Linked DNA regions of Homo sapiens. The protein of the gene in region 1 interacts with the protein of each later gene in a pairwise test. Each region holds a gene or a part of one and is shown on either strand. Other genes may lie near its edges.

What was found. Proteins that work in one complex are often made in the same cells at the same time.
Region 2: the proteins of TBL2 (region 1) and PDPK1 interact in binary tests that used the Homo sapiens proteins (3 or more experiments, as listed by UniProt).

Annotation. Positions count from the first base shown.
Region 1 is NC_000007.14:73,568,564-73,575,590, forward strand, and holds part of TBL2 (transducin beta-like protein 2), read right to left. Parts: intron 5,951-7,027; coding exon 5,820-5,950; intron 5,560-5,819; coding exon 5,375-5,559; intron 4,909-5,374; coding exon 4,757-4,908; intron 4,408-4,756; coding exon 4,281-4,407; intron 3,473-4,280; coding exon of another isoform or gene 3,385-3,472; exon of another isoform or gene 3,192-3,384; intron 2,779-3,191; coding exon 2,626-2,778; intron 2,410-2,625; coding exon 1,944-2,409; 3' UTR 1-1,943.
Region 2 is NC_000016.10:2,583,015-2,590,041, reverse strand, and holds part of PDPK1 (3-phosphoinositide-dependent protein kinase 1), read right to left. Parts: intron 6,631-7,027; coding exon 6,457-6,630; intron 3,367-6,456; coding exon 3,149-3,366; intron 1-3,148. UniProt on the Homo sapiens protein: Serine/threonine kinase which acts as a master kinase, phosphorylating and activating a subgroup of the AGC family of protein kinases.

The DNA of each region.
Region 1 (7,027 bases):
TAGCATTTAGAGGGGGGACGAAGCCAGGTTACACAGGACCTTGCAGGCCATGGTAAGAATTTTGGATTAAGTGTTTTTAGCTAGGCACGATGGCTCACACCTGTAATCCCAGCACTTGGGGAGGCCAAGGGGGGTGGTGGATCATTTGAGGTCAGGAGTTCGAGAGCAGCCTGGCCAACATCGTGAAACCCTGTCTCTACTAAAAATACAAAAATTAGCCAGGCGTGGTGGCACATGCCTGTAATCCCAGCTACTCTGGAGGCTGAGGCAGGAGAATCGCTTGAACCTAGGAGGCGGCGGTTGCAGTGAGCCGAGATTGCGCCATTGTACTCCAGCCTGGGTGACAAGAGATTGTCAGAAAAAAAAAATTGTTTTTACTATTTTTGGTTTAGAAAAATTCTTTTGGATTTTATTCCAAGTGTGATGGGAAGCCTTGGGGGGTTTTAACTAGGGAATAATGTGATCTGGTTCACATTTTCAAAAGATCATTCTGCTATATAGAAAAGTAATGAGGCAACAGAGGAAGCAGGAAGATCCATTAGGAAGCCATATTATAGTGGCCCACTAGGTGACAGTAGCCAGGACCAGGATGGTAACAGAAAAGCTGGAGAGAAGCAACAGCCTCAGGATGTCACATGGAGTGTAACCAAAAGAACGTTCTGGTGAACAGATGACAGCTGTGGTGGTGGGACAGAAGGGATAATGAATGGGGAGTCATCAAGGATAACTCCACGGTTGTGGCTTGTTCCAACATTGAGAGGTCAGGGGCAACCAGGGGGGGTCATAGTTTTCGTGAGAGAGATCAAGAGTTTGACTTGGGATGAATAAATTTGCCTACACTCAAGCCTTCCCAGATACCTCATTTCCCTTACCTGCCACACCCACGCAGCCTTCAAATTCACAAATTTAAACTTCTCAATACCGACTCTCTTATCAAATGTACCCCTTCAACTTCAATACCCATTGCCTCTGTCCTGCTCTGGTCCTCTCTTGCCTTGACATATATAACAATAGCTATGAATAAACTAACACAAAGCACTTAATAAGGGTGTATCTCTCTCTCCCACCAGCCATCTTTGATGGCAGAAACCATGTCTTATTCGTATTTAATCCCCAGCTCATATTTATTTGGGCACAGAGTGGGCACTCAAATATCTGATGAACTTGATGAACTGAAAAGAGGTCTCCTTAAACAAGATATCATCTCCCGAAGAGAGAAGTCCCAACCATATAAAATGTATGATCAAGTCCCAGAAAACTTTGCCTTCCCAAGGAATGTGTTTCTAATTTGGTTTCAAAGCACACTGGTTCCCACTTTTACCACTTTCATGACATTGGACAATAGTACTACTCTTTTCTACTTTTCTTCCAGACCTGGGGACTTGATATTCTCTTAGCCTCATATCATCTTTGCAAGGAGTTCACAGAGAGGATTATTCTCCATCTTACAAATAGAACTGAGGCCCAGAAGGAAATCCCTTAGTGTCTTTTTGATGGAACACAGTTCTGTGATGGGAAGCTATCCCAGTCTCCCATCCTTGCAAAACTGCTGCTTAGTACTCAGGTGTTCTCTAGGTTGTTCTGGAACATTTACAAACTTCTTTGGGTGTGAGGATGTGCTGCCACAAGGCCAAAAATCACATTCTCTCTCTCTCTCCTCTCCTCTCTACCATTCTCCTCAGTGCCAGGTGGGGACAGATTCCACCCACTGGGCCTGGGAGGAAGAAAAGCACCTTGGCCACTAGTCAGGGAGGAGTCACAGCCAGCAAGAAGAGAGAGACCTAAGTAGACAAGAGTAGTTTCAATGGGAAGAAGCAGGGCCACCAGTAAGAAAACCAGGAGACTCCTTCTGAAAGGCTTCCACCTGGGAGGAAAGATGGCAGCAGTGCCATGAGGAGGCCAGATCCCTCCTCCTCAATCCTCTGCGCCGGGCCCTCCCAGAGTCACTTCTTCAGGGCACCCAGGCTCTTCAGGGTCTCTTGGGCCTGGGTCAGCTGCTGCTGCAGCCTCTGGCGGGTGCTCTCGTTGGAGGCCCGCTTCAGGTGGCCCTGCATCTCCTCCACCATGGCTCGGTGGCCAGGAGTGTTGTGAAACAGCCGCACCGCCCGGTCCCCACAGGAGGCCAGAAAGCGGCCAGTGATGTCAAAGGACAAGTTGGCGATACACTCGCCATGGACCCGCTCAAAGCACTCCTCCTTCTCGCCCCGCCGGGTATTGTAGAGATGAATACTACTGCCACTGGCCAAGGCCAAGACCTGGGCGTTGGGGGAGAGGGCCAGGCGGCACGGCGCGGCACCCGCCGCCTCTTCAAAGCGGCCTGTCTTCAGCAAGTAGGGGTCCTGCTTCTTCTTGTATTCCACATCTGTGTCCCACAGTTTCCATGTACCATCCTTGGAGACAGAAGCCATCCTGCAACACAGAAAATCACAGCTCAAGCCCCAACACACCCTGGCAGGGTAAGCACTGGCCCAACTTGAGCAGCTCCAGCTAGGAAGCTAAGTCAGCTTCCTGCCGAGGGCCAGGCACCCCACCCTCTTCAGAGCCATGGCACAAACAGACAGAAGGACCCTGGTTGTCAAGAGGGGCCAAGAGCCACTGGTCAGACATCAGAGCGGATTCACTCACCTCCGTGAGTCGTTGGAGAAAGCAAACGAGTGCACAGCCGCGGAGTGGCCCTTTAGTTCGAAGGCTCGCACCACCTCCTGGAACTCCCCCTTCTTTCCAAAGCAGACTTCCCAAACCTTCACATCTGGGGTGAAGCCACACGAGGCTACAAATCTGCCATACAACCCAGAAGCCTTTAAAACTTCATTTTCGGAGCATGTTGTTCCTGTAAAACCCCTCAATCTCTTTCCTGAGAAAGTTGATAATCCTCATATCTGGATAATATAAACCTTTAAAGAGTTATTTTGGCCGGGCGCGGTGGCTCACGCCTGTCATCCCAGCACTTTGGGAGGCCGAGGTGGGTGGATCACCTGAGGTCAGGAGTTCGAGACCAGCCTGGCCAACATGGTGAAACCTCATCTCTACTAAAAATACAAAATTAGCCAGGCGTGGTGGCGCATGCCTGTAGTCCCACCTACTGGGAAGGCTGAGGTGGGAGAATCACTTGAACCTGGTAGGTGGAGGTTGCAGTGAGCTGAGATTGAGATTGCACCACTGCACTCCAGCCTGGGCAACAGAGTGAGACTGTCTCAGAAAAAAAAAAAAAAAAAGGCCGGGTGTGGTGGCTCATACCTGTAATCCCAGCACTTTGGGAGGCCCAGGCGGGCAGCTCACCTAAGGTCCGACAGTTTGAGACCAGCCTGACCAACATGGAGAAACCTCACCTCTACTAAAAATAAAAAATTAGCTGGGCATGGTGGTGCATGCCTGTAATCCCAGCTACTTGGGGGAGGCTGAGGCAGGAGAATCGCTTGAACCCGGGAGACGGAGGTTGTGGTGAGCCAAGATCCTGCCATTGCACTCCAACCTAAGCAACAAGAGCGAAACTCCATCTCAAAAAACAAACAAACAACCACAACAAAAAAGTTCTTTTATGTATGTGACCTCAGTTTATCTTCTAGCCTTGTTCTAAGATATGTAACATCCCCGCCCAAAGGTGGCTTGGCACAGTGGCTCACGCCTGTAATTCTACCACTTTGGGAGGTCGAGGCAAGAGGATCACTTGAGGCCAGGAGTTCAGGACCAGCCTGGGCAACATAGTAAGACCCCATCTCAACAAAAAATACAAAAATTAGCCAGGTGTGGTAGTGCACGCCTGTAGTCCCAGCTACTCGGGAGGCTAAGGTGGGAGGATGGTCTGAGCCTGGGAAGTCAAGGCTACAGTGAGCTGTGATTGCGCCACTGCACTCCTGCCTGGGCGAGGGTGAAACCGTCTCAACAAACAAACAAACAAAAAACAAAAATTAGCTGAGTACAGTGGCACATGCCTATAGTCCTGACTACTCAGGAGGCTGAGCTGGGAGAATAGCTACAACCCAGGAGTTTGAGGCTGCAGTGAGCTATGATCGCACCACTGTGCTCCAGCCTGGGTGACAGAGTGAGACTAATTTTCTAAAAAACAAAAACACTGAAGATGAAGAAATAGCGACTAAGGACATGGGGCGACCTGCATGAAATCCCACTACTGCAAGTGGGGAGAGCTGAGACTTGAAGCTCGGGTTCCTGACCCCACCCCGTATGCTCTTCCCACGCGATGAAGCTGGCTCTCTGTTCTGTGCCTGCTCCCCAGCCCCAGCCTCTCGTGGTCCCAGACGCCAATACCCCTCCTTGCCCACCTGCCACAGGGAGATACAGCAGCGTGTGTGTTGTTCATCTGGTTGGTGTTGATGGTAGACAGCACTTGACCCTTCAGGCTCCAGATGAGGACAGTGGTGTCACTGGAGGCAGTCATGATAAACTTCCCTGAGCGGGAAGGGAGTGATGTGGGTCACGGGCAGTGACCTGACCAACTGTCACTCTCCAAAGACACTTACAAGGCCTCTGCTGCCCGAAGTATACATGTCTCCTCCCAGGCCAAGGGTCACTACAGATAAGGACTCTGCTGAAGACTGTGGCCCTTCCCCACCTTCCCTAGGGACCTGGTGTGGCCCAGGGACTCCAGGGGAGCACAGAGCCAGGCTGTTCAGAGCCAGGGACCCCTTGTTCCTCTCAGGTTGAGCAGAACTTTCAGGCAGCATTAACTCATTGAGGAAATAGAACTGGATCTTTCCTTCATGCTTTGGGCAGGCGCCACCCTCTGAATGCCTCTTACCTGTGTTAGCAATGCCAATGTCGATGACAGGCGCCTTGTGCTTTTTAGGGAAGTCCTCTGGGGTGGCTGTGAAGGTGTAGCCCCCATCCTCCCGCTTGGTCATCTTGAAGACACGGAGGGTGTCCCCGTTGGCCAGCCAGACGATGAAGGCTCTAGAGACAGGCAGCAGACAAGTCACGCTCTCACTGGACAAAGAGGCTCTGTGTTCCAGGTCCTGTGCTGGGTTCTCGGGGAAGTCAAGATCTCTCCTCATGCCCCACAGTCTAGCCTTAAAACTTAAGCCCCTGGTTCCAAATCTCATAAAACTCCTCAAAAGGTAAGATTCTGATAGCTTTGGCTCCTTTAGTTTCTCTCTAGGGTTTAGAAACTAAGGCTCATCTGGAAGCCAGGCCAAGGTATTTCCAGGTAGGAAGAGACCTCCCCCTGTTTCCTTGCTGTATAGCAGCCCAGATCTCCAGGGAGCCCCAGGCAGCGCGCAAACTATGTGGATGCTCTTTCTGGCACCCCAAGGGAGGCCCTGGGTCCAGGTCCCTCCTCACTACCTCAAAGCAGATATGGGAAGGCCAAAGCCTGGGACTAGGCCTCTGCAGGCAAACCTGAGGCTCCGTCTTGTCCCACCTGCAGTCAGGGCTGAAGCGCACCAGGGTGGCGTGGTCCAGCTCCACGTTGGCTCTCATGCTGCGGTGCTCTCGCTGCAGGAAGTCCTTGGTGCTCCAGATGCGGATGGTGCGATCATCTGCACAGGTAGCCAGGTATTTGCCATTGCTGCTAAAGTCCATGCAAGATATGTTCCCGCTGTGGCTCTAGGGGAAGGGTGGCAGGAAGTGTCAATAGGAGCTCCTGGGGGAGATGGGGAAGCCAAACCTGGAGCCGGGGAGATGGGGCCCTGTGGCCTGGATTAACAGCAAGCTGAGATTGGGCTGCGATGAGAGGGGACAGAATTAAGCACCCCCGCTGATTCTGATCAGAGGCAGGAGAGCCTGTAACATGCATGGAATACTCCAGAGGAAAAGCCTGTGGGGCTGAGTCTCAGGGTGCACGCTGTGCCAGGTACCCCACGTACCTTCAGAGCTGCAGCCAGGAGGCGGTGGGTGAAGTTGTGTTGTTGAGGCTTCTCCTTCCGAATCCGCTGATATTGTTTCTGCTTCTTGGATCCCGAAGATTTGTCAGGTGGAAATCCATTTGCTTTTTGGCCTATAAGGAAGGGCCATGTTGTTCTCCAGTTACTCACTGATAAGCATTTACTGCCCACCTATGATGAGCCAGGCATTGAGTGGAACAGCAGGAGATTAACCAGATATGGCCCTTGTCTTCTGGAGGAGAATGAGTGTGATATGGGCAAAAACAGAGGCTTTGGCTGGCTGGGTATGGTGGCTCATGCCTGTAATCCCAATGCTTTGGATCATTTGAGCCCAGGAGTTCGAGGCTGCAGTAAGCTATGATCACAACACTACTGCATTCCATCCTGAGTGACAGAGCAAGACCCTGTCTCAAAAAAAAACAAACAGAAAACAGAAACAAAACAGAGGCTTTGGAATCAGACCTGGGTTTGGATTCTGTCTCTACTACTGACTGACTACTGAGGAGGCTGTTTACAGTAAGTCCACAGAGCACCTTCATGTAGAGTGGAAAAGGCGCACTCTCTGGGTTGGGTGATGCTGCTGGGCGGGTACACAGCACGGCCAGTGGAGTGTGGATCCTTGGCCAGACATCCCTATGTAGGGAGTAATGTGCACAACCATCTCTAGCGGCCCTGCTTTGGGTAAGTTAGTGAATTGCTCTGGACCTTGGTTTTTTTTTTCTTTTCTTTCTTTCTTTTTTTTGGAGACAGAGTCTTGCTCTGTCGCCCAGGCTGGAGTGCAGTGGCGTGATCTCCGCTCACTGTAGCCTCTGCCTCCCAGGTTCAAGCAATTCTTGTGCCTCAGCCTTCCAAGTAGCTGGGATCATGGGCGTGCACCACCATATCCAGCTAATTTTTTTTTTTTTTTTCAGATGGAGTCTCGCTCTGTCACCCAGGCTGGAGTGCAGTGGCGTGATCTCAGCTCACTGCAAGCTCTGCCTCCCGGGTTCACGCCATTCTCCTGCCTCAGCCTCCCAAGTAGCTGGGACTACAGGCGCCCGCCACCATGCCCGGCTAATTTTTTTTTGTATTTTTAGTAGATGTGGGGTTTCACCACATTAGCCAGAATGGTCTCAATCTCCTGACCTTGTGATCCACCCGCCTCGGCCTCCCAAAGTGCTAGGATTACAGGCGTGAGCCATGGCACCTGG
Region 2 (7,027 bases), on another chromosome or scaffold:
CACAACTCAGCAGCAGACATGTCAACTCCCTCTTCGTGCCTGCAGTCGTATCTTGAATCCAGCAAGTTTCGACTGCATTGTGGACTGTGGCAGCACAGGATGACCAAGCCTGAGGCTGTGCTGCAGCCGGAGGCTTTGTCTCTCAGCTACCGTGTGGCCTCTCCAGCCTCTACAATGCAGCTTCTAAGAGCTTCAGTGACTCTTTAATTTATTGTCTGAAAAGCTGTTACAAACAACATTGGATTTTAAAGAGCTCATCACACATATTTTTGAAATGTTCCTTTTAAGTGTAAACTATTCCATGTAAATTTAAAAATTCCTTTTACCTTTTTTTTTTTTTTTTTTCCAATTTTGAGACAGGGTCTCACTCTGTCACCCAGGCTGGGGGGCAGTGGCAAGCTCTCTGCTCACTGCAGCTTCAACTTCCAAGGCTCAGGTAATCCTCCTACCTCAACCTCCCCAAGCAGCTAGGACTACAGGTGTGCAGCACCATGCCTGGTTGATTTTTGTATTTTTTGTAGAGACAGGGTTTCAGTTTCTTGCCCAGGCTGCTCTCGAATTCCTGGCTCAAGTGATCCACCCACCTTGGCCTCCAAAGTGCTGGGATTACAGGTGTGATCCTGAACTTAACTTACCGTATTCTCATGTAGGCACAAGGAAAACTTCAGGATTTCAAAATAATGATTCAGTGGATGATAAAATTACAGAGGCTATAGCAGGTATAAATGAAGAGATAGTAAGAGCTCAGTAGAAATATTGAATATTAATCTCAAAAAATGCATACATTGGCTGGCGCGGTGGCTCACACCTGAAATCCCAGCACTTTGAGAAGCCGAGGTGGGCAGATCACTCGAGGTCAGGAGTTCGAAACCAGACTGGCCAACATGGTGAAACCCCTTCTCTACTAAAAATACAAAAATTAGCTGGACGTGGTGGCATGTGCCTGTAATCCCAGCTACTCAGGAGGCTGAGACAGGAGAATCACTTTAACCCAGGAGGCGGAGGTTGTGTGAGCAGAGATCACGCCACTGCACTCCAGCCTGGGCGACAGAGCAAGACTCTCTCTCATTTAAAAAACAAAACATATTGATACCAAAAACCTATGACCTTAGAAAAGACCAAAAGCACGCAGATTCCATTCTACAGCATGTGACCACTGAAAAACTCACCATACACGCACAGAGAATGACAGCAAAAAGGCAAATAACATCTTAGTATTACAAAAAAAACTGCCCTGACCTCGGGGATTTGGTGGCCACACACTGAGAATGCAAACCACTACTGTAAAGAGCAGGTGCTGGACAGACCTCCCAGCAGCCAGACAGATCCTGCAAGATCTCAGGAGTCATCAGCTTCCCAAAAGGACCTAAAATCTGAAGGAAGTGGGAAGGGGAAAGAGAAACCTGAAGACAAAGGAAGCAGGCAGGAGAATGTGTATCCTGACTTGCCGCCATCACCAGGCTAAGGTACCCAGACGGACCCCAAGGCCCTCTAAGAACAGCCCCAGGCAGAGGGGCCTCTTCTGGGAGTCACCAAAGGAGCTGAAACACACACACACCTGCAGACAGCACCTCTCAGCTGGGATCTGCAGAGAGAGCGCTCCTGGCCAAGTACTTGGAGTGGCCACAGCAGCCCTTCGTGGGGACCCCAGCACACACGAGCCCGGGAAGCTCCTTGCATAGCCAGGCACACGCCTCCTTGCTGCTTGGAGCTGCGCAGCACAGCACGGCTCAGATTGCTCCCATCAAGAGCCCTCCTCTCCTGCTCAGTACACATTAACATCTCTAGCAATCACACTAGGTGTGATTCAGAGCCCCTAGCTGTAGACTGTTGCTGCCTGCCAGCATCTCTGCACAGGTTTTCTAGAGACAGGTGTGGCGAACCGCATAGAGCCGTGGTCTTCCCCACCTGCCGGGGCGGCCCAGAGCTCAGCTCCTTCCTCTCATTCCTCCCCACAAGTCTCTCAAGTCACATGTGTCCTGTCCCTGCCTAGCCAGGCCCTCAACTCCCCCTCGTCTTGTGCTTCCACTCCAGCATGCCTTCCTGCAAGGCCCTCTCCCCACCCCCTTGGGCTCCTCTCTGCCCACACAAAAGGGAAAAGCAGGTAAAAATATTAGGGGGGAAGCCCGTCTTACCAGATTAAAATGGAAAACATAAAATATAAATAGGGACAGGATGGACTTGGTAAGAATTTGCAGCTTCCATACAAAAACACAGTATCGAGACTGGAGAGAAACTGAAGAATGTTTGCAAAACATACAACAAGGAATAGTCTCCATACACGTGGCTTTTAAAAATCCATGTTAAAAAGAGGCACCAGCCTGGCCAACACAGGGAAAGCCTGTCTCTATCAAAAAATACAAAAATTAACCAGGTGTGGTGGCAGGTGCCTGTAATTCCGGCTACTTGAGAGGTTGAGGCAGGAGAATTGCTTGAACCCAGGAGGCAGAGGTTGCAGTGAGCTGAGATCGCGCCACTGCATTCCAGCCTGGGTGACAGAGCAACACTCTGTCTCAAAAAAAAAGATGCAAAATATACAAGAAAGAATAGTCAAAGGACACAAAGTACCTCAAAAAAGAAACACAAATGGTCATGAACACAGGAGACATCTGCCTCAATAGGAATAAAACAGAAATTCACAAGTTTGTTTTTGGAGCATCAAAACACTCTCAGGCAGGCAAGAGCATTGGGAAAGGCAGATTCCTGGCGCCCCCGCGACAGATCCCCAGCCCTGAAAACACGCACGCCCTCCATCACACACTGCCCCTGGCACTCACCTTAGAAGACATAAATGGACAAGTGGGGAAAGCTATGTGGAAAAGAGGGGCTACAACAGCAAACCTCATAAACTCCCAAGTGGCCAGGTCCAGGCCGCGTCTGTCCATACCACAGTGACTCCATGGCCACAACCAGCAGGTCCAAATGCCCGGCAGAGGAGGGGAGCGCCCGGCGGTCACAACCCACTCAGCCCCTGGGCCGGCTGCCTCCTAAGCACCTGTTTCCAACTGTGCACTTACGATGTGCTCCTTGGCCAAGCGTCCAAGGCTGCTGAGGGAGGCAGTGACAAGGCAAAGGCACCCACCATAAGCCCCCACGTGTTCACGCTGCAATTCTGCAAAAAGCATTGCTTATGTCCATAAGTTCTTACCAAGGGTTTCCGCCAGCCTGCTTCTCCAACAACAACCTCTTCTCATCTTCGGAAAACTGTAAGTCCAGTTCAAAGGAGTTCGAGTCCAGATCGTGAATGTACTGCTCTATGTTGCTGCCTGACCTCTGGGGCAGGCCCGTGTCGGAGGCTGACAGGGAGTGTGAGGAGGAGGACGAAGACACCTGCATGCAGCCAAACTGGCTCAGGAGATTGTCATACTGCAGAGAAGAAGGGAAAGTGAGAACCGCACCTTCACTTGCCTCTAAGGTCCTAAAACCCCAGCCCCTCCCGCACTGCCGCTGTCAGGCCTTGGGAGCTCGCACACAGCAAGGCGCAAGGCGACAGGGTGGGCAGCCCTGATTCTCCTCCATGGGACACCTGGCCACAGAACCGAGGCCTCACTGGATCCTGCCTGGTCGGGCTCCTCTTCCCATGGGAATCAGGGCCAGAGAGGGGCGAAGCCTCAGATTTCCTCTCCAGGAAGAGGGGACCTGGGCCCTTACCCTGCGGGCCCCGTGAATGCCAGTGCTGCCCCCCGGAGGTGGGGGCTGGGATGCCTGCTGGGAAGAGAAGGGGCCCAAGGAGGCCTGGTGGCAGATCCATCACACAGGCTGGCAGACAGGGCCTCCGTGCAAGACCTTGTTGGGCCCCAGGTGTCTTAGGAGTCTGAGTCTGTGGTAGATGCTAAATATTTTGATTTGACTAAACACATTCAATTGTTTAAAAGACATTCCTCTTAATCCCAGCAAAGATAAACTAAACTTACTGTAGATAACGCTGCCTGTTACTCTAGGAAAAAGACAAGCTAGTGTCGACAACGGAAACTCACTCATAAACGTGCCAAGCGGACACAGCCTGTGCACTAACACGCTCCTGGCACTGCCAAGGCCAGAGAGTCCCTGGGCAAGGGAAGCCACCTCCCCGGCTGCAGGCCCCACATCTGAGCTCTGTGGAGGCCAAGGACAAGGGGAAAGAAAAGGTGCCACGAGCAATGGCTAGGATAAGAGTGCGGCATGCCCTTCCACGTCCTCCGTGCCTCCAGACGCAGGCCCTGGCTGCTGCCCCACGCAACCATCCACACATGCAGCGTCCCCCATGTGTTCACACTCCTACAGCTGCACCACAGCCCCGCCTCACAGCCCTAAAGCCTCGCACCCAGCTGGGCTGGAGCAAGGTGCTCGCCAACGGGCATGGTGGAAACGCCCGACGCTGCCGGCCCCTCCACGCCGGCCCCTCCACGCCGACCCCTCCACGGGGTGTGGGCCTGCCCAGCCTGCTTGTCTCCAACACTGCCCAATGGTCACACTGCCCCGGCACTTACAGGACCTCAGGAGAGCAGGAGCCAACGAAGCACCTGCTCTCCTGCCTTGGCCCAAGGGCAGGTACCATGGCCAACCTCCCTGGCTGAAGGGGACGCCCAGTGCCCATTCCCCATGAAGGAGGGGGTGCGGCCCTGCAGGGAGGGAGGAGGTACAGCCCTGAAGTCTCCTTCCATGCTTGACACCGTTTGCCAAGACTCACTCACTGTCCCCGTGTGAGGTCTGGCCTGGGAGCTCCCTGCCTGGACCCACTCCAAGGCTTTCAAACCACACAGCTGTGCAGAGCTAAGGATGGGCCATCTAACAGGCGGCTGCCAACAAATGGAGCCTGGCTTCACAGACGGCAACAGAAGCCACGTATCAAGCAGCCCCAGCTCTCAGTAGGCCCAGGCACAGGGGCCTGCACAGGTATGCGGCAAGTGCAAGCACACACACCCCCACACTCAGAGAAGCTCCCCAGGCATTGAGACTGGAGACAACTGAAGCCTGTGCTGCTCCTTCAGAGCCCAGCTACCTCCCTGGGAGCAATGGAGCACAGAGCCCACGGGAGAACGGCCACCAGCCAGTCGCGAGCAAAACCTCTGCAGCAACAGCAGGCCCAGCAGGGAGAGCACTGCAGCCCCGTGGCACCTGCCAGCCGTAACCAAACACCACGCAGGAGCAGCTGAGTGGCACACAGGGTGGGGGCAAGGGCCTCGAGGCTCCCAGGCCTCTGCATACATGAAAGCTGCAGGTGGCCACATCAAGCGGCACAGACTCCGCTCCCCAAGCCTGGCTCCCTTAGAGTTTGGGCTCAAAGGATGTCGGGAGGATGAGGGGCGTTACACAGCAGGTAGGGGCGTTGGGAAACTTTGACACTAGCAGAAATTTAGCTGTGGATGACTTTTAGATAAAATCTAGAATTCCCAGCTGGGTGCAGTAACTCATGCCTAAAACCCCAGCAGTTTGGGAGGCCGAGGCGGGTAGATCACTTGAGGTCAGGAGTTCCACACCAGCCTGGCCAACACGGCGAAACCCTGTCTCTACTAAAAATACAAAAATTAGCCGGGCATGGTGGTGCACACCTGCAGTTCCCGCTAGTCGGGAGGGCGAGACAGGAGAATCGCTTGAACCCACAGCGGCAGAGGTTGCAGTGAGCCGAGATCGCGCCACTACACTCCAGCCTGAGTGACACACCAAGACCCTGTCTCAAAACAAACAAAATCTGGACTTCCTCAGTCATGGAAAGTGGAACTCCGTACACGGTGCCAGTTAGAATAAGCCATGGCGACAGAAGTCAAACCAGAAAAATGGATCTCATGATAACAGCACTTAAGTACGAGGGGGTCACGGGGGAGGTGGCAAGAGGAACTCAGAGGAAACAAGGCTGAAGTGGGCGACATGCCTGCCTCTCACAACACCCTCGGTCCCTTGGGCACATGGTCCACGCTCTCTACGAGAAGCTTAAAGAGCCAAGCGTGCTGAAGACCCCATGGCTGTGGTCAAGCTGGGAGACCAGCAGCCTCAGAGCCTACTCAGCACTGAAGAAGGTACCAGTGTCCCCACCAACGCCACGTCCCAAAAGTTCAAGCACACAACACTCGGGGGTTTCTGTGGAAAGACAGGCAGTGTTCTGGAGCATCTTGGCCGCACAGTTGTACAAGCACCAAGCCAAGCGCAGATGCGACAGGCCGGGCAGGAGGCCCCGTACGTGGGACCCCGGGGCCAGTGCCGGGGGTGCTCGGCGTCCGGTTCTAGCGGCACCCTGTGGGTGGAAACTCACTAGCCTGTCCACGGCCACGGAAATGAGGAGAAAATGACCCACCCAGCACCTCACCCGCCACTGCCTCACGGCAGCAAAGACTACAACCACCAGCAGGCCTGCCGCAGTGGCACAGACACCCTCCCCTTTCGGCTACAAATCACACGTGGGTCTGGCGCACGGGCATGAAGCCCAGTGCACGGAGGACCCAGTGCCACCTGCCTCGCCCGCCATCCCGGCCAGCTTACATTGCCATAGCAGTCCTCGTCGTCTTCCGACATAGCCGGCAGGTAAGCGGTGAGCTTCGGAGGCGTCTGCTGGTGCAGGTTCTCCCACGTGACGGACTCGAAGAACGGGTGTGCTTTAAGAGGTCCGTATCCTTCCATTTCCTCACAGCCTAACCGCTTTGTGGCATCTAAAACCTTAAGTAACAATCAAGACAAGTCACTGCCAGGGTGAAAACGTGATTCTGACCAAAGAAACCCAAACCTGGTAGCCGGGCACGGTGGCTCATGCCTGTCATCCCAGCACTTTGGGAGGCTGAGGCGGGCAGATCACCTGAGGTCAGGAGTTCGAAACCATCCCGGCCAACATGGTGACAACCCGTCTCTACTAAAAATATAAAAATCAGCTGCGCGTGGTGGTGCACGCCTATAATCCCAGCTACTCGGGAGGCTGAGGGAGGAGAATCGCTTGAACCCGGGAGGCAGAATTTGCGGTGAGCCACGATCGCACCATGGCACTCCAGCCTGTGCGACGAGAGCAAAACTCCATCTCCAAAAAAAAAAAAAAATATATATTTATCTCATCTCATCATAA